Homo sapiens: one gene and its partners. The protein of the gene in region 4 purifies or fractionates together with the protein of the main gene of each other region. This does not show direct contact. Each region holds a gene or a part of one and is shown on either strand. Other genes may lie near its edges.

Region 1 (4,852 bases), on a different chromosome or scaffold from region 4:
TTTCTAGTGGATCAGGAAAAAGACCTGGACAGGGAAGAGGGTTCTCTACAGAATATAGATTTTCCCCTTAAGAGACATCTTTGCAGGGCCAATTCAAAATATGTAAAGAAATATATTTTAGAGTAAAATGCTTTTATTTCTTTCAGATCCCGCTATCTGTCCTGTGATGCCATACTAGAGTAAAGCTGGAATTTGGTGTCTTATTGTTACAAAAAGCCTTAAGATCTGTTTTAATGTTAATGCTGCTCAATTGTTCCTGAGTTCCAAAGGGAGGAATGTGTAATGAGACATGTCTGACCCCCTCTTCCCATCATGGCCTGAATTACTTTAGAATGCCCTTAGTTGAGAGGAGGGGTCCATTCAGACGGTTTTGGAGCTTAGAATTTTGTTTTTAGTTTGCATTCCTGAGTGCTGGTAGACCCTTCAGTGTTCATTAGAACTTTATTGTTCAGACCCAAGAAGAGCAAACTTTTTGATGAAGTATTACAAGAGAAAAGATAAACAGCCTTCTGAAGAAGCAAGTTATTTTGTTGTAGCAATGTCTACTAAAGAAACCAACTGGCTTCTTCCTGTTCGCCCACCTTTCCTTTGTTTATTGATATTTCCACCAGAGGAAGGACCAGGCAAAAGGGAGAATAAATTCACTTTTTAAGATAATGCTTCTGAGTTTTAGCACAGCATCCCACTTCCCGGGAAGCTTTATTGCCAAGGCAATAAGGAGACCATGTGAGTAGGAGTTAAATGCACAGCCATTTGTGAAGTGAGACTGCTTGGGTTCAGATCTTGATTCTGCCCTTTATTCTATGTTGTGGAATATATTACATTGTGCTGTGCCTCTTTTACCTTATTTGTAAAATAGAGCAAGCACCCAACTCAAGCAGTTGTTGCAAGAACTGCCTGCTATGCTGTTTAATACAGTATGTGGCAAATAGCAAGTGGGTAGTAAATGTTAATAATACTGTTTGGATTCTCATTTTACATATGAGAAACTGAGGTTTAATGAAGTTAAAAAAAGAAAAAAAAAACTTGTCTAAAGTCACACTACTAGTTAGTGGCAATGCAAGGAAAAGGACCAAGGTTTCAAATCTACAACTTTCTCCTTTAAGCTACAGTGCTCCCGTAAAGAGTATTTTTAAAATTGGTAATAGGAAGGGAATTGAGATGTATATTTGAAAATATAAATAATCCATCCTGTCCCTCAGCTCAGAGTTCTTTTTACCAGACTTTTACCAGACTGGTTCACTTTTACCAGACTTGCTTGGGTTATGTCATTTTAGTCAGTATATTTGGCAGAACTATCAGGGTGTGTTGCAGAGTGCTGTAGAATGAAAGTCATGAGAAATGACTTCTAATGGTAGTTTCCCATTCATTTACTTATATGACCTTGACATTTCTCATTCCAGTGATCTCTACTAGTTTATAAAATTACTTAGTTCAAGTAGTTATATGCTGACAATACATATTCTAGAGAAAATACTCATTGAGATTATTATAAACTAAGTTTTTGACTTTTCAGAAGTTTTCAATGCTTATGTAAACTGCTTAGAAATAAATTTATCATTTTATGAAACTTGGTGATAGTTTACTATTATCTCAAATTGCTTATAAATTAATGGAAGTGTCTCCCATACATTTTAAAATGACTTTTCTGTTGACATTTTGGGGTATAGCTTCCCACTTATGTATTAAAATGCAATTAAAGAAAAACCCCTAAACTTTCTGTTTTAGCTGCTTGTTACTCACATTTTGCCTTGGTATATCACCATCTAACTCCATAAATATTGTCCCCTATTGTCTCTTGTTATTTTTCACCTGAAAATTATTTTGCTATGACTCTTTCCATCTTCTACCTTAGTATCCTATTTTTATTTTATTATTATTTATTTTTATTTTACTTTAAGTTCTGGGATACATGTGCTGAACGTGCAGTTTTGTTATATAGGTACACATGTGCCATGGTGATATGCTGCACCTGTCGACCCGTCATCTAGGTTTTAAACCCTGCAACCTATTTTTAAAAATCTATATTTTACCTCAGCAAAGTAAAAAATAGATGAGGCAGCAATGGTAACATATTACTAATTGTTGGGGCTGAATGATCATGGGGCTTCATTATATTTTTCTGTACATAAGTTGAACATTTTTCATGATAAAAAGGGTCTAAAAGATATGCTTTTTTCCTCCTCTCTCCAAATTTAGTTTCAAAGATACCTTAATTCATGATTCAGACATGTTCTTGCTTTTGTGAAAGGGATTCTATTCTTTTCTTTTTTTTTTTTTAATCAATGGTTTAAAAACCTATCCTCGACACTATTTTAAATCTGTTCTTGACACTCTTTTTCTGGTTAGACGTTCATTTTCCATAGCCTCATTTATCTTCGGAAGTCACAACCTTTATTTGGAAGAAGAGGTTTAAAGTCATTATTCATGCCCCAAATCCTTCAATTTTCTCTCTAGAAATTGAGAGCAACTAGAAATTATATTCTAGGTATTTGTCCTAGAGTTCAGTTTGGGTAGGCTATACTAGAAAGGGTGGATTAATTTAGTTTCTGATTAGACCTGGTGGAACACTTCAGGTGACTCAGAAGTTCCTGATAGTGGGTCTGAGGAAGAAATGTGGACAGGCAGGTTGAATGTTAGGGGAATATGGAAACAGGCAATAAGTAGATGATGGTATTTGGCGTGTAGGAGATCCAGCCATGCGTGCAAGACGGCCATTTCAGCATGTTGGCAAAATGGCAGAGTTGACCTAATGGATAGCAGCCCACATTATAAAGTAGAAACAAGTTTCAGGGCCAGTATTTTTAGGCCCTGGGAAAATAGGCCGGAGGTTTACGGTGAGTGTCTTGTTCCTAGAGAAACTTTGTTACCTTGTACAGTAAATGGCAAAGCATCTGATTTCTGGGAAGTGAGTTTCAAGAGAGAGAGGTTAGATTACTAGGAATAAAGAAAGAGTCTAGATACTAGGAATGGCTTAGAAGGTGAGAGTTGGACAGAATGAGGCTGAATTGGTGCTAAGCCTCTGACTCTGAGGGCTCCTTAAATATCTTCCAGCAACAAGATTTTAATAGTATTGTTGTTATTTTTAGTTGACACATACATATTTACAGGGTACCCTGTGATATTTTGTTACATGTATACTTTTTTTTTTTTCCTGAGGACTAATTCTTGCTGTGAAACTAGAGAAATGTATGTAACAGAGGCTAGATGGGTTATTATATTATTTTTATTTTTATTTTTTCAGAGTCAGAGTCTCGCTGTGTCACCCAGGCTGGAGTGGACTGGTGTGATCTCGGCTCACTGCAGCTGCTGCCTCCTGGGTTCATCCCTGCCTCAGCCTCCTGAGTAGCTGGGATTACAGGTGTCCGCCACCATGGCTGGCTAATTTTTGTATTTTTTAGTAGAGACAGGGTTTTGCCTGGCTGATCTTGAACTCCTGACCTCAGGTGATCCACCTGCCGTGGCCTCCCAAAGTGCTGGAATTATAGGCGTGAGCCACTATGCCTGGCCCTAGGTGGGTTATTATACTAAGTTTCTTTGAGCAGCAGCCTTTGTTCACATGTGACTCACTGGTAGTGGGTATTAGTTGGCAGGTTTGGGTGTAGCTGGCTCTTTGTTTTTTTTCTTTTTTTTTTAAGATTTGGATCTATGTTTCCAGCAGATTGCTAGACCTATTGATATCTGTGACAGGGTCACAACTAATCTGGCAGCTCTAGCAGAGTTACCAAATAATACTCAGTTTTTTCCCCCAGCACAGAACTGTTGAACACTCTGTTTTTTTTTTGGAGCGGGGGAGGATATCTAGGTGGCATCAATTATCACAGTTTGCCTGAGACTGAGGGGTTTCCCAGGATGTGGAACACTTCACTGCTAAAACTGGGAAAGTCCCAGGCAAACTGGAATGATTGGTCACCTCTTCTGTAACTAGCTAACATAGCTCTGTTTTATGTGTTCTGTGATTTATTTGGAGGCTATTTACAGATAGTACAACTGTGAGTTGTATGTTGTACCTTAATTTAAAACTTAAGTGCATGGTGTAAATATGAATCCTTGACAGAGTAGCTTTTGTTCTGTATTTAAATTATTAATGATTTAGAAAATAATTTTCACTAAAGTAGGAGAAAATGCAGAATTGATATTTTCTAAATGTGGTATTTCAGCTAAGTGACTTATCTGCACCAAAAAAGTTTCCAAGTGGGATTTGTGTTCATAAAAAAGTTTGTTTTTTATTAGACTTGTGATAAATTCAAGAAATTCTTCTGCAAGTAAAAAACACTCACAATCATTTAACATAAAAGGTTATTTAACTTTAAAGCCAGCTTTCAATAAAGCCTGTTAAACTAGTTCACTGGTGAGTGAATGAATTGATTAAAAATACTTTCTTAAATATATCTTTTTATAACCATTTTGGATTGGTAATGGCTTAAAATCCAATGTGAACAAAGAATGTTAGGGCATTGGAAATAGCACTGACATTGGCCCATAGTTTTCCTCTGATTAAATGAAAGTGACACCAGTAGATTAGAATGAGACTAGGACAATTCACACTGCAATTTTGTTAGTTTAACTTTAACAGTCTTTTAACACTCTTGTTTAAATGTAGCTGACATACCATAATTACAAATCTACAAGCCTTGATTATAGAATTTTACATCATGAGCCTGTGGGGAAATTGTATTGATTTTTTTTTTTTTAATAAAGCAAGCATTGTTCCCAAACTGTGGCATCTTCCGAAGTTTGTTTATATCTACATCCTATATACAACTGTGTATGGTGTATATGCTATGTATAGCAGGCATGAAGACAACATAAAAGGTATGTAAAATCTCCACTATTAGTTCAATATATATTA
Region 2 (4,852 bases), on a different chromosome or scaffold from region 4:
GAGCTTTAGCTCGGTTGTGATCCAAACGAGTCAAGCAACTGAAGTTCTCCTTGGGGATGGATGGAGCTGACTTGGAAGCAGTCAGGCAGTTGGTATTGGCTGGATTACCCACAACAATAACCTAGGAGGAATGGAAGGCACTGAAGAGTTACAGACTATATAGTTACTAACTAATCTATGTTAAAATTTGACTGAAAATGTCTAACAGGTAGCCTTTGTACAGGGGAGGCTTGGGAAACACCAAATACAATATAGCATAGGAAAATGCATTTTAAGTTATAAAAATCTTTTATAAAATGGTAATAAAAAATTTTGAAATAATATCAGATTTATAGAAAAGTTACAACCATATTACAGAGACTGACTCCCATATATCTTTTTTTTTTTTTTTTTTGGTACCTCTTTTGACAAGCTGTAGACAAGATACTTCATTGTCTCTAAGTAGTGCAGTGCTGGCAAATATTTCTCACGAACAAGGACGCTTTGAAGAAGTGGAATTACTGTGCAAGGAGTACTTTACCTCCAAATAGCCTGCAATTTAGCAGTCTGAACAATCTTCTAATCTTTTACTGGCACCTGTGGATTTCTATTAAACTCATTTATACTATTTTCTGTGATGACAGAAAATAAGTTAACTATTTAAAATGAAGTGCACAGAAAGCAAAAAATGCAGATATCTATGAAATGTTATTGATAGAACATTATAATGGGCAACTTAAAAAATCTTAAAAAATTTTCTTTCACCTTTTTTTGAAAGATAGGAAAGTATATGGAAATCAGTTAAACCTTTAACCGGCAAGCCTATTTGCTGGGTGACAATTAAGTTCTAGTTAATTGATAGTTCACTAATAAAAGAAGGTTTGGCTGGGCGTGGTGGCTCACACCTGTAATCCCAGCACTTTGGGAGGCCAAGACAGGTGGATCACCTGAGGTCAGGAGTTCGAGACCAGCCTGGCCAACATGGTGAAATCCCGTCTCTACTAAAAATACAAAAATTAGCTGGGTGTGGTGGCGTGCAACGGTAGTCCCATCTACTCACGAGGCTGAGACAGGAGAATCGCTTGAACCCGGGAGGCAGAGGTTGCAGTGAGCCAAGATTGCACCACTGCACTCCAGCCTGGGTGACAGAGCAAGACTCCGTCTCAAAAAAATTAAAAAAATTAATAAAAAATAAAAAAGGCTTACTGTAATATTAAGACATATTAGAATCTAAAGTAAATAGTTTGAACACAAAGAGAGAACTATAAGTCATACTGACTCAATTCTTCAAGAGACAAGCATATTAAAATTCCTCTGCATTAAGAAAATCTGAGCATTCAGAAACCACTATCTTCTATTCCTGAGAATAAACTTACCTTACAGCTAGCTATCTCCTTTCACAATCACACACAAATTTAAATGTCTAAATAAATATTCCCACGCAGCAAAAATGCACCAGAAGATCCTGTGCCTTCTCTATATGTTTAAGAACTAATACTAAATTTTCACGTTATACTAATAGGAAAAATATTTTTGAGCACTCTGAATATAGATTTCTATACTGTAAGAAAAAACCCAGAAAGGGAGAGCTTATCAAGCAAAACTCTAGAGCCGTATTTACTGATGATTGTACAGAACTAGAAAAAAGGGCAAATAATTTTGGTTTTGCTTAAATGCTAAAAGCATAAGTTTCAAATGCTAATAATGAAAAATCCCATAAAATACAGCATTGGTCACCTTAACTGACTTCTTGGCGTATTTATCTAAGGCTGCACCCTGGGATTTGAAGATTTTCACATTTGCTTTCAGTAAATCTTTTCTCTCCATGCCTTCCCTTCTTGGCATGGAGCCCACAAGAATGGCCACATCCAGGTCTTTGAAGGCAACGTCTTCTTTATCTGTTGCGATGACATCTGTGGACATGGCAATAAATACGCAGAGCTACTTAAACATCAAAGTTTGAAGTTTTCTTTTTCATATTGAATCTACCCATTAATTCTTTCACTTGTTGCAAGTGTTTACATATCACACTGATATACATTTCAGGAGCCTGAGAAAGATAATATATTAATTTAACAATCATAACATTAGAAATGTCAATAGATTTATTTTGCTTTTCCTGTTTCAATAATTACTTAAATGTCAAAACTCCATAGCTTTTATCTTTTATAATCATATATGATGCAAGGTATAATGATGACTTTTGAAGTGACACTTGTTATTCACACTAATTACCACACAACACAAAAGAGCAACTAATTCACCTAACCTTTAAATTACAATTACTTTAAGGTCTAAGACACCAATCACAAATTTAAAAATAATAAATGTTTATTGAGGAGTTTTGTGCCAGGATAATGCTAAGAGATTTATATTACTATCAAATTTAATCTTCTGATTTTATAGATGGAGACACTGAGGTTTAAAGAGATTAACTCGCCACCATCAAAAGATAATGGAGCTGTAATTCCAGCCTAGGTTGGTCCAGAGTTCAACCACTATGCTCCAGTGCTAGTACAATAAGCAAACATCACTTGCTTTTTGACTAAAGAACATAAGTCATCGCACTTCTTTGTTGATTGTATTAAAAAAGCTATGACCAACATTCAGCATTTTCACTGGAAAATTGGCTAGTTGCATCATAGTCAAGGCTGCCATAAGTCTGAAAATGGGCATAGACAGGAACACCAGTTGGAGAAAAAAAAATTATCTTCCTCTTTCCCAGTCACATGTCCTTATTTGCTGAACTTTCCCTTCCCTGTCATATTCATATCTGGCAGAGGACAAACCAACAGCAATCTGGGCCCTTTAGAGAAAAAGCACAGGGAACTCAGCAGAGAAAGGAATACAAATGGGAAAAAGCAGCAAAGCTGATTTGGAAAGAGCTGTGGGTGAGAAAAGGGAACCAACAGAATAGTGTGGGCAGTCATGTATTCTTCCACAGAACTTTGCAACCAAAAGACTTAGATGGCAGAGTATCCCTTCTAGCAAATGTTTATTCAACAGATGAAGAATTTTAAGGAAAGTTTTTCTTGGAAGGTATGTATTATTTTGCTTTGTGCAAACTTCTAGGAGAGTATCATTAATTAATCCTTACCAAAAGAAAGACTATGATGAAGAAATAGCTGAAGAAAAATATTTAAATTAATTTAGAATATTTTAATAAACTTTTCGATCAAATTTAAGGCTTCCTTATTATATCTGTGTTATAGTTCAATGATTTGCAAAGGCCCTTAGCTGAGCTCTTCTGGGTTTTTTCAAACTATAGAGCATATGGTAAGGACAATTTACACTATGTCTCAACCTGATGATTGGTAGATGGGATGGGGACCGTGTAAGAGGAACCAACCAACTTCCAGAGCAATGTATAGCTATGAAGGACATCCTTCAAAACTGAGAAAGTTTTCCATTACAGGATGCTACTATTACCAGTTAAGCAGACTCCATAACAACACAATGTAGACAATTCCTACGTTGTCTATAATGTGTGTGTGTGTAGACAATTTCAGGTGTATAACCCTTGTGCAATATTACACTTAACTGGTATAATAAATTATATACACACACACATTGGGGAAAAAAGGATAGTCCTTTACCTGACATTGATTGTTGCTCATTTCTTACCCTTATTTATCCTTGGTATACATAAGTAGTTAATAAACAGTGGTAGTTCAAAATAAAAAAATCCTCTTATGAAATAATTTCTAATTGAGAGCCTTTAACAAAAACCTAAAACCTGTATTTTGTAAGAAATCAAATACCATAAAATCCCTTCTCTACTCCCCAACCCACCTTTCAGGAGGGGAAGGGCACAGTCTTGCAGTTCCATTAGGACACCGTCCAGGACACCCATCATGGGGGTGATATCCAACAGCACAAGAATTATAGGCTACCAAATAGCAAGGACAGCATCTGTTAGTGTAGGCTATTTCATTTAGACACAAGAAAGTCTTTTCACATAGTTTTTATTTGGTATGTACATGCATGTAATTCCCATTAATTAGTCATGATGATTATTTTAGGAGGTCAGGTATCTAGCACTATGCCACTTTCAGAAAGAAGGATGCTATAAAACCAGCATTGGTTTGCTAACAGACACAGTGAGAGGAATCACCACTACTCAATTTTAACAGTATATGAAAAAAACATTAAACTGAGTGACATGCTATAGCTTGCTCTTATTGTTAATAGCTGTATATTTGATTTCAGTTCATGGAAAGCTAAGTACAGTATCTGACATGAAAGAATAATTCAGTATCCATGGGTCAAGAAACTGAATAAATGAATACCTTAGAAAAGGATTTTAGTGTATATTAATCAGGCTTGCTGGAAGTCGGAGTGCCTGCTTCAGCGGGGAAGCAGATTTCCTTACTCTTTTGGTTCCAAAGGCCATTTATGAACAAGGGAGTGCTTACTGAGTAACTCTCTCCCACATGACTGTAAGTTACTGTCATTAGTGATATCTCCCATTGACTGACACCTGCTGGTTGCACCAAGTCAACTGAGTACAATATATGGAAGAGTTCTCATTTGCAAAGTGTTTTCAGTGCCTGGAGGCGTACATATAAATACCTTAGTAGCTTCCATTTATAGCAATGTGCCTATTACATTTACTGGGATTACATATTCCTTCACTGTTTAACAATTTGTGTACAACTAAATACAGATTTTTATTAACCATATTCTTACTCTAATAACTTAAGATTTATAGACACCTGTTCCTACCTGATCTTTACCAAAGACAGATCCATTTCCAATACTGTACAGCAGTGAATATGCAATTTGACCAGCTGCTCCAGTCACAAGGACTCTGATTGGTTCAGACTGTAATGAAAAAGACCCATTAACATCTTTAAGTACTACTGTACCTTAA
Region 3 (4,852 bases), on a different chromosome or scaffold from region 4:
ATGTGGTGTCTCTCTCACAAAGTATCTTAGTAATGTACTCACCATGACCATGGGTAACTGCAGAAAAGGGGGACTACTGTAAATGAACTCTGAACTTAGGAAAGTCCATCAGCTAATACTATTCAAGAATATGATTTCATGTTTAGCCCCCTTCTAATGTGTTTGTGCAACCTTGCTATTATTCAAGTGTTTAAGATTTTAATCAGAAAGACCAGTTTAGTAATGAACAGTGAATATCCCAGATAAGTGTCCTATAAACTCTTGTTTGGCTACATTAAAAAATCTTTTCAAAAATAAGTGCTAGCATAGTCTAATAAAAGCATCCAGAAGGATACACACTCACCTTGTAGCACTTAGGGAAGCATCATCTTACCACTGAGGGTTAGGGTTTTAAAACGATGTGCCTTATAAATTCCAAACTATTTATGAGCTAGAGCAGGGGTTGGCAAACATGGCCTGGATATTTGTTTTTGTATATGAAGTTTTACTGGGATGCAGCCATGCCCATCCGTTTATGTATTGTCTATGGCAATGTTACATCAGTGACCATGTAGTTTGCAAAGGCATGCCTTCGCAAAAAGGGTATGCCTAGGAAAAAGTTTGCCAACTTTTGAACTGAAGGACTTTTTAATACCACCTTTTAAATATCCTTTTCATTCCAAAAATTTCCTGGTTAAGATTTTTTAGGGCAAATAAAGGGGAACCTTATTTCACTGAGATAATTATAATTCTAAATGACACATGATTATACAGGCTGCCTATTATTGCTTTGATAAAAACAGGCATTGGGCTTGGCCTCTCCACAGACTGCTGTACTGGTCAGTTGCTACTTTTCTATTATGAGTGTCTGTCTCATACACTCACATCAGCTTCTTCACACTCTCACTCCTCTGCTGCTGCTACCTCTTCAAGGATGCTTCTTGAGCCTGCATTAATTATCTGCCTCCTTTCCCTTGTTTCTTCTTGCTAGTTTTACCATGTTTCTCAGGTACTCTGGATTTGGTGAAAATACCAGAAGCTTTGATCATCTCATATTATTTACCTTATTTGGTTCTAGCTTATTTTTTAAAAACTTCAGTGTTAAATATTTGTTTAGAGTTATTCACATACTAATTCACACTAACTTCTTACTTATCATTCCCCTTCTTGCATCTCAGTCTTTCCTTTTGGGTTTAATTTGCTTCTTCCTGAAGTGCATCCAACTTGTCACTCCATTTGTTGCTTGGGGGTACTAGGCACCTCTGGGCGTGGCCTTGGATCAGCTCTTGCCTTTTGCAACAATACTCTCTTGCTCTTATTTGGGAATTTCTTCTTTGGCCCTACCCTGCTTGTTTTCTGTCTTTCAAGGTTTCCTTATCATTTCTTGTTTGATGGATCCAATTCTTCTGGTCCAAAGCAGATACTGATCAACTCACTTTAAAAACATCTTTTCTGTCACTGGGGGCAAAAAGAGAACACCACAGAATGTGCTCACACCTAAACTTTGAAATGGAAGCCTCTCATCTGTTGATCTCTACATTTTTCTCATTTACCAGCTTGCCAATTAAAAATGAGGCCACAAGTCTTTTTACCTGCAGATATGTACATGTTCCATTTCTCATTAACTGACCTGACAGTACTTCTGAAAGGCAATTTCAAGTAATAGTAAGAACACAGGCTGCTGAATCCTACATCTTGGAACAAATCTTGATTCCATTACATTGTATTTGACTTTCAAGCAGTTAGACCACCCCGAGATAAATGGTTTCCTTATCCATAAAAGAGAGATAATAATACCTAAGTATTTGGGTTTATAATAAATTATAAATGATACAGCATATCATATAAAGTTTGATTTCAAATATTCTAGCAATCATGTTTGTTTTTCTGATTTCTCCCCTATTAGTTGTGATCATACTGAGTTTCTAAATCCCTGTTTATTATTTTGCCTTTTTTCGTATGCTAAGGATAAATCAACTGGATAATGTATTGGAAATGTCAATGAATCTGGAAAGTTCTTAAACCAAGTCTTTTCAAGTGAATTCATAATAATCCATAAGAATTCTACTTTTGATAAAAGGCAGAACAAATTAGACTTAATATAAACACTGATTATAACTTTTAAAAGATGCACTGGAACAACTCTATTTTAGCAACTAAGAATTTTTGAAAGAGTATAATCAATTTTCAAAAAAAATCTGCCTAACAAAACTACAGGGTATCCATTAAAGAAGCTTATGCAATAATAAAATCAAAGTAATTAATTTTGAAAAAGCAGAACTAAAATGTACTATGCTGATTTCAAAAAGAAGAAAATCTCTTTCATATAAAACAACAGCTCTACATGGTTACAAACGGTCTGCTACCAACATAGCTATCTCCAAATGTCACTTATTTGGCTAAAAAAAGTCAAGGTTCAGACACAAAAGAACAAAATGGGCATAAGCAAAAGAAAAAACAAACTAGTTAAAAGTAAGACAACTCACAATCAATAATTTAGCAACACAGTACACACACAGAGAACCTTCTGGGATGACATCTTAGGGCCTAATGTACATGCAAATCAAGCCAACTTTTCAGGAACTCATTTAATGTTTTCAACTCTTTAACAACGGAAACTTACAACCACAAGGTCTCAATGACCTGAAGCCTCATGTTTTGGGAATAAGGAGTACAGAACAATGGTTTGGGTTCTCTATAGAATAAAAAATATATCCTGTTTTGTTTTTCCTAGGAGGACAGAGAGGTCTAACACAAAGAAAAATTGTTCTGATCTACAGTTTGAGATATGGTTAGAAGGAAAGAGTACATTTAGGGCAGCTCATTTAGTAAATGACAAGGGACCTAAGCAAAAAATGATCCCATGGAGGTTTTTATTTTCAGAGAACAAAACCCTTGGCTGGGTAAAAAAAAGGTCAGGGAAAAGGCGGGAACGAAGGGTAAGGAGGGAGTCCTCCATTTCTTTTGAGAGCTAGCAGATAGGCTGAAGCCATGGAAATAAAGCCAATGCTGAGGAAGAGACCTGGGACAGGCCAAAAATAAAAATAAAAAAATCAGATCATGGTCATGTGTCTTAAATCCAGGGTCAAGCTGTGCCTCAACTGTACAGTTATATAAATTAATAAGATCTCTTTACTGTTTAAGCCTGTCTGAGCTGGGTTCAGTTACTTGCAAGACAGAGTCCTAACTAATACAATATTGAAATTATATAAATCTTTCATAAACAGCAAATCTGTTTTTGATACAGTAAGCAAAAATATTTCCCAGGGATGAAATTATCTAGCAGTATTCAAAGGTACTTTGTAATCCTTTCGCAGATCTTGGGGAGGGATGAACAGTAAAGAGAAAGACAGTGACTGGAAATCTTTGCGAGCACACCCTATCACAGATGCTGGATCCACTAGCGGCAAAGAGTAATATTTCCATTTATTTTGGCTTTTGGACAAATGCATCATTCTTATCAGTAAGGTATAAAAATTGCTCTTGATATATAACCCAAACCCAAACAACAACAAACATATTTAAAGAAATCCAGTAATTGTGGTTAACATGAAGCTATGGATAGAAAAAACCCTAGCTCTATTTAGAGGACCCAAATTAACTGCTTTTAGAACCATATCTTTACAAAGTTGTCAATAAAGTGTTAAGAGATAAATGTGCTATCTTCTTTCCCAATTTTCTTCGTATCTTACTGAAGCTGACACTACAAAGCATTAAAATCCTCTTCAGCCTTAGTTATAATAAAAGCTACTACTTATTGAGTGCTTACTATGTATCAGGCACTGTGGCAAAATGCTTTATATACATCTACTCATTTCTGTTTTTCTCTTGCTTCTTTTAGTAGGGCTTAAGATCCCAAATGAAATATTATAAACAACACTTTCCAGAGTATGGTCATAAAATGACAAGGCTGGGATTAAATACTAGTGATAATACTGTAACTGGTAATATTTTCTGAAGATTTCTTGCTTTCCAACATCTGTAGGATCCATCTAATACAGCTAGAATGGCGGCAACTAAATGGTTAATTTCTGAGTCTGGATTTTGAACTCCATCTAAGGGCTTATAATAGCAAAGACAAAAAAGGTAGGAAAACTCCAAATTTACCACTATCTCAAGCATATCAAGAAACCAGATAACTTGGAGAGTCCTTACTTAACAGCAAACTACCTCTAACCATTTTGCTCGGTATGTATTCCAGAAAATGAAACATATACATTTCAAACCAGTGCTACTCAAAGCATGGTGTATGAACCTGGTGCCAGTCCACAAAGTGTTACTGTCCAAAATGACATTCTTCTATATCATCAAGTACAATGGTTATTTCAAGCTGGTTTCTGTGTGTGTGTGTGTAAAATATTTTCTTGACAAAGAAGACTGCTGATTTATATTCACCCAAGCTCCTTACCTACCACAAACTGGTAACAGTTTATGGGCCAGCTATTTTGAGTAACACTACACTTCAATTTTGTATATTGCTTCCAGTTTTCTGTCCCTGCTGCCACACAAAATTCAAATAAATTAACAATCAAATACTTGGCTTAAACACAGTAATAGAAAAAGCAATACTATTAGCAATTGACCTCACCTTTGACAGAAGCAATTTCACACAGGAAACATGACCCTCATAGACAGCAGACAGAAGAGGAGTAATATGATGTTTATCTGGAGCCTATGAAATAATAAACAGAGATAACTTTATCTGTTTTTCATTTCTTCCTACTTTCTAGTTTTAACTAGAAAACTCTTTCTAGATTTACCTATTTGCCTTTCTAGAAAATCAATCAATCAATCAATCCACAGAGTCAAGTGTCTAGTCTCTTAAAGCTACCAGAGACCCAAGCCCACGAGCAATGTCTTTCCTTAGGAGTCA
Region 4 (6,112 bases):
TGCACACTTACACACTCATGGACACACCATGCACATACACACATCCACCCGCATCTAGTCACGATTCATCACATTCACACACATATACAATCATACCATTTACACACAGTTAACTCATGTACACACACATATACACCCAGTCACATAATTCACTCACATCCAACAAAGTCACACAACTCAAATTCACACATATAGACCAAATCCCCACACACGTACACACACACACACAATCACAGCATTCACTGACATTCATAGTCATCACACAGTTCACTCACACACACACATACTCCCCGTCACACACAGGCACACAATTCACACCAACAAAATCACAATTCACTTATCCACCCACATACTCAAATTCACACTGCTCACATTTACACACAATTCACTAAAATTCACGTATACACCCATGTACACAGTTCACTCACATCACACACATATACACCCACACATAAACACACAATTCACTCACACACAGTTCACTGACATTCGCACACATACACACGCACCACACAGGCAATTCAGTCACATGGCCAAAAGCCAGTCCTCACCTTGCTAGTTCCCTTCCCAGTGTCACCTCCGCCTTTGGCCCTCAGCGTCCCCTTCCCATGCCTGGACTGCTGGAGAGCCCTGAACACACCCCATCTTCATGCCTCCAGCACTAGCCCAAGCCCTTCCCTCTGCCAAGAGCACTAAGTGCAACTCAAGGTCACTTCTAGGGACCCTTCCCTGTCCCTCCTCCTGCCAGGTGACATGAGGATCCTGCTGGCCCTGCTTAACAATGATGCACACCACAGTTAGTTCAGCCGAGGTCGCTCTCCCAGACTTACTGCCACCTACACAGCACTGGGACTGACTGTTTAACTTTATTCTTTATTTCGTGTACTTTATTGGAGTGTCTGTTGAAAGCAAAACCATCCAATTAGGAACAATCCAAAGGCAGCCAGCATGGAGTGAGTGCAGTGGTGGAAACTCAGATTATTGCAGCCTCGACCTCCTGGGCCTAAACAAACCTTCTGCCTCAGCCTCCCATGTAGTTTGGATCACAGGCTCATGCCACCATGCTGGGCTAATTGTATGACTTTGTAGAGATGGGGTCGCACTTTGTTTCCCAGGGTGGTCTTGAATTCCTGGGCTTAAGTGATCCTCCCACCTCAGCCCATTTTGCAAAAGTGCTCATCCCGGTAATGAGCATTCCCCAACCCCCAGCAGGGCAGTGGGACACTCAGGTGTGGAATGGTGGCTGCACATCAGCATGACCCACCTAGGACAGACACTCAACACAGTAGCCTCATCGTGTGTGCTGCACACTCCATCATCTCTGTCAGTCTGTGGGCTGAGGGGCAATCTGCCTCCTCCTAATTGCAGACTCCCTAAGGACACAGTACCTCAGACACCTGTTTTCTCAAAGGTTGGGCACAGGGTGGCCCCCCCACCACTAATGTCTGTGCCATAAGCCAACATGCCCCTCTCAGAGGTGACAGCAGTTTTCAGTGAGGAGCGCCACAGCTTGGGACAGCCTGGCTGAGGGCGGGGGAGTATGAAGAGCCTTAGTCTTCTCATCATAAAATTGGCATAATGGAGATTATCTACCTCATGGGGATAGCATGTCTTGTCTGAGCAAAGGGAGAGTGGATAGGGATTGTAAGGATCAAATGGGATCATGAGTGTAAAGTACCTGTAGAGGACCTAGCACATGGTAAGTGTATAACACTTGTTGTTAGAGTAACAGTTTTCCCTGAGTATCCGTGGGAGATTTGTTCTAGAATCCCCAGAGGAAACCAGAATCTACATTTGCTCAAGTCCCTTACATAAAATGGTGTAATATTTGCATGTAACCTACACACATCCTCTCATATACTTTAAATAATCTCTGGGTTACTTATAATACCTAATATAATGTACGTACTATGTAAATAGTTGTATTGTTTAGGGAATAATGACAAGGAATAAAGTCTATACGTATTTTCAGTATAGATGCAATTATCAATTTTTTTCCTCTAATATTTCAATCCATGGTTGTTTGAATCAACAGATGCGTAACCCAGTGATACAGGGGGCTGACTGTATTATTCCTCTGTAGCTTGAGGGAGGACCCAGCAGGATCAGCCATTCCTCATCGACCTTCATGGACTAACAAAGGCTCCATTTCAGAAGGTCTTTTTTTGTGAGCCAAGGTCTCACTGTCACACAGGATGGAGTGCAATGCGCAATCATAGCTCACTGCAGCCTCAACCTCCTGGGCTGAAACCATCCTCCCACTTCAGCCTGCCAACTAAGTGAGACTACATGTGCACACCACCATGTCCGGTTAATTTTTAAAACTGTTTTGGGGGATGGCATCTCACTATGTTACCCAGACTGGTCTACAACTCCTGGGTCAAATGAACCTCCCGCCTTGGTCTCCCAAAGTGCTGGGATTACAGGCATGAGCCACCGTGCCTGGACAGTGTCCTTTCAAGCTTCTCATGCCCTTACTTCCTCCTAGACATGGATGTGGCTCAAGAATATCTTTTACCCAAGAGGAAACTTTAACTCGGTCACAGAACGCCAGGTTTGGGTTGCAGACGCTTCTTGTGGGGGAGGGAGGTCTTTTCCCCTGTATTCACAGAAGAGGAGGTTGCCAACTGGAGATGGTTCATTTCCAAGTTTGTCTGGGGTCCCCCAGCTATGCAGGACCCAGAAAGCAGATGTCTAGACATCCAGGCCAATGGTCTTTCACTACTCTGTGAGTCTCCCGTGAACTTCACCTGGAACCTGGCTGGGACACAGGTCCAAAATACGTAACTTCAGAACATACCCAGAATTCCTTCTGACCAGCCTGGAAAAGTTCTAGAAAATCACACTTCAGCCACGTGTACCTACCCTGTCAGGTGCCAAGGCAGGTACAGCACACAGACAATCCCACATGACCCTTGCACTGCCCCGGGGGTGTTAAAAGAGAGCCTTCCCGGTTCACAGACTTACACACTGAGGAGCAGAGCCAGAAATTCATTCAATCCTGCTCGCACTTTGAAGATGGTCCTAACAGCAGGAACCTAAGGGGTCAGGGGGCCCCAAAGCTCCAGACCCTGATGTGTCCTTACTGGGCAGGGCAAGAAATGGGTTTTTCCCCCTGAGGCAGGATCAGTGGCTCCAGTCTGCGGCAGTCCCACATGGATCCCCTACTACCCCTACGCACCGGTCCTGGCCCAGGGCTAGCTCCTTGGTGAGAAACTCAAAGAAGTGGGCGCTGTGGCTGCGGTTGTCCTCGGCGGTGCCCACTACGCCGATGGAGGAGATGGACAGCTGCGCGCAGGGCTCGGTGGACCCGCTCAGCGCCATGGCCAGGCCCGGCCGTACCGTCACGTTCACGCGCTGAGGGGGACATGAAAAGTTTTGCCCGAAGTTGGAGCCGGCCGGGCTACCTCTGGGGACGGGACCCGAGCGCGCGAAAGCCGAAACGCGCAGTGTTCGCGGGGCAGGGATCCCGATACGGGCCGCGGTCCCTGAAGGTCACGCCCGGGTCATGACTGGGGAGGGCGACAAGGGAAAGACGTGCGGAGGGGGAGCCGCGGGATCGTGGAGCACGGAAAGTCAGAGCTTGGCGTGAGGAAAGGAGTGGGGAGTGGTCCCTGGGGAAAAGATTCGGGGTCACTGTCGGGGAGGCGGAGCAGGGACAGGGCCGGACCCCTGGCCCACCAACCTCCCCTCGCCCCGTGCTGCCCGGCCCACGCTTACGTCCGCAGGTTTGCCCAGGATGGAGGCAGCGGCGGCGCAGAGTCGTTTCTCCAGCCCCGCGGGCACTCGGTTGGCGGGCAAATTCGTGTCCAGCTCCAGGAACGGCATGGCGGGCAGAGGAACGGAAACAGCTCTGGCGGAAGAAAAGCTGGGGGTACCCAAGGCTCGCGGACCAGGGAGGAGGGGCGAGGCGCCACAGCAACCTGGCTTCTCATTGGCTGGACAGAGACTCGGCGCTCCCCGATTGGCTGCCTAGGGTACCTCCCGCTTCTGCAAACAAAAGTCACGTGTGCCGGCTGATTTCCGGAAGTCCCATCGTCTCCGCCCTACGTGTAGCCCCACCCACTACAGGTCTTTAACCCGGTAGTGGACCCACCCTGTCTCCCCCGACCCTCCTGCCTGGCGCCAGGTGGGTTTCCCTCTCAAGCTTCCGCGCTGTGGTCGCCCGGTTCCTAGCCCTATTAGAGGTCTGAACACCACACCCCCGACACACAAGGACACACACACACCTATAGGGGTCTTCCCCAGGCTCGACCCTAATAACCAATACAACGGGAGCTTAAAGTTTTTTTGAATGATTTGCCACCATTTCGAAGTCAGGCAATTTCATGTTCAGTATGGAAATCTGCGCTTGGGCAGTCAGGAGATGTGGTTACTCGCGGGGGCGCGGGTAGGGCTAGGCTCACGACAATACCTGTCCCTGCCTGGTCCCCATTGACATCTGCCTGTGTAGCCTCTTGTGCCGGTGGTGAGCCACTGTCCACCAGGGGGTGGCAAAATATGTTCTTTAAAACATGGAAAGGCCGGGCACGGTAGCTCACGCCTGTAATCCCAGCACTTTGCGAGGTCCAGACGGGCGGATCACCTGAGGTCAGGAGTTTGAGACCAGCCTGGCCAACATGACGAAACCCCGTCTCTACTAAAGATACAAAAATTAGCCGGGCGTGGTGGCAGACGTTGTAATCCCAGCTGCTCGGGAGGCTGAGGCAGGAGAATCGCTTGAACCGGGGAGGTGGAGGTTGCAGTGAGCCGAGATCGCGCCATTGCACTCCAGCCTGGGTGACAGAGCGAGACTCCATCTCGAAAAAACATCAGAAAACATGGAACTCTGTTGGCGTGGCTTAAACATGAGTGTGGTCAGTGTGGCAAAATCACTTGAATTGTACATTACAAATATGATTGAAGTTGTGGTCGAGCAATGTGGCTCACACCTGTAATCTCAGCACTTTGGGAGGCTAAGAAGGGAGGATTGCTTGAGCCCAGGAGTTAAAGATCAGGCTAGGCAACATAGCAAGATTCTCTTCTTTATTTTCTACAAAAAAAAAAAAAAAAGAAAGAAATCTGGGTGCTGTGGTGTGTGCCTGTAGTCCTAGCTACCTGGGCGGCTGAGGCAGGAGGATTGCTTGAGCGCAGGAGATCTAGGCTGCAGGGAGCTATGACTGTGCCACTGCACTCCACCCTAGATGACAGAGTGAGACCCAGGCTCCCCCCTCCCCCACAAAAAAGAAAGAAAAAATTTGCAAGTTTATATGTACAATTTCAACTACGTGTATAAAATTCTCTATAAGTGTGCATACTTAAAGGAGCCTCCACTGAAAGGCCGACAGAGTCTCTGTCTGTCATGATCTTGTCCTATTAGCAGTTTGTTTATTAGATGACTCAGATATCAGAAGGTCTGAGACACACGACAGGTAAATATGACAGTCCTAAGGGGAGAGGGCAGGGACAGGTGGCAAGTCTGGGACCAGGTGTGGGGCATGGACAAGCCAGTGGTCCGGGAGTGGGGTGTAGAGAAGACTGTGGTCAAGGTTATGAGGAGGCATGGGAGAGGGCCAGGAAATAACCAGGGACTTCCCTTCCTGCAAGGAGGTTCATGAACCAGCCCTGCACCCCACTTGTGGAACACAACATCGCCCCACAGTGAGGAGAGAGACCGAGGAGACCAAGGCTGATCCTGATTCAGACATCTTTCCACCAGGTCACCCCTCATCGATGATACATGCTCAGTCCGGGGGTATCCCCCGCAAGGAAACACTGGGGCTGAGGAGCCCAGAGAGGTCGCCTGACCTGGACTGGGGCTGGGGAGGTCAGGGAAGTCTCCCTGGAGAAGAGACAGGGTGCCAAATGCCAAAAGACCAGGAAGGGCACCAGGCGAAGATGAGGAGGGAACAGCATGAGCGGAGGCCAAGAGGCCAAGGTGGGAGCCCAGAGAGGGGTTAGGAGTGTGCAGGCAGAAGGGGCCACCTGGAGGAGTGGGAGCAAGGCCTTGAATGCAAAGTTCAATGACTTGTACTTTAGCTTCTGGGCAGTGAGGAACCATACAAAGTTCCACACAGAAGGTCAGGGTCAAGTAAGCGTTTGCCCAAGCTCTTTTCAGAGGTCACATGGAAGC

What was found. The genes of interacting proteins can lie anywhere in the genome.
Region 1: the proteins of DDTL (region 4) and TBCA purify together in Homo sapiens (affinity purification with mass spectrometry, with the first as the bait; one large-scale study listed by BioGRID). This does not show direct contact.
Region 2: the proteins of DDTL (region 4) and MDH1 purify together in Homo sapiens (affinity purification with mass spectrometry, with the first as the bait; one large-scale study listed by BioGRID). This does not show direct contact.
Region 3: the proteins of DDTL (region 4) and MTPN purify together in Homo sapiens (affinity purification with mass spectrometry, with the first as the bait; one large-scale study listed by BioGRID). This does not show direct contact.

What each region holds. Positions count from the first base shown.
Region 1 is NC_000005.10:77,769,512-77,774,363, reverse strand, and holds part of TBCA (tubulin-specific chaperone A), read left to right. Parts: intron 1-4,852. UniProt on the Homo sapiens protein: Tubulin-folding protein; involved in the early step of the tubulin folding pathway.
Region 2 is NC_000002.12:63,594,439-63,599,290, reverse strand, and holds part of MDH1 (malate dehydrogenase, cytoplasmic), read right to left. Parts: intron 4,804-4,852; coding exon 4,705-4,803; intron 3,869-4,704; coding exon 3,772-3,868; intron 1,893-3,771; coding exon 1,717-1,892; intron 122-1,716; coding exon 1-121. UniProt on the Homo sapiens protein: Catalyzes the reduction of aromatic alpha-keto acids in the presence of NADH. Plays essential roles in the malate-aspartate shuttle and the tricarboxylic acid cycle, important in mitochondrial NADH supply for oxidative phosphorylation.
Region 3 is NC_000007.14:135,946,032-135,950,883, forward strand, and holds part of MTPN (myotrophin), read right to left. Parts: intron 4,652-4,852; coding exon 4,568-4,651; intron 1-4,567. UniProt on the Homo sapiens protein: Promotes dimerization of NF-kappa-B subunits and regulates NF-kappa-B transcription factor activity. Plays a role in the regulation of the growth of actin filaments.
Region 4 is NC_000022.11:23,964,631-23,970,742, reverse strand, and holds the start of DDTL (D-dopachrome decarboxylase-like protein), read right to left. Parts: upstream 3,856-6,112; 5' UTR 3,829-3,855; coding exon 3,721-3,828; intron 3,358-3,720; coding exon 3,182-3,357; intron 2,758-3,181; coding exon of another isoform or gene 2,541-2,757; exon of another isoform or gene 848-2,540; intron 1-847. UniProt on the Homo sapiens protein: May have lyase activity.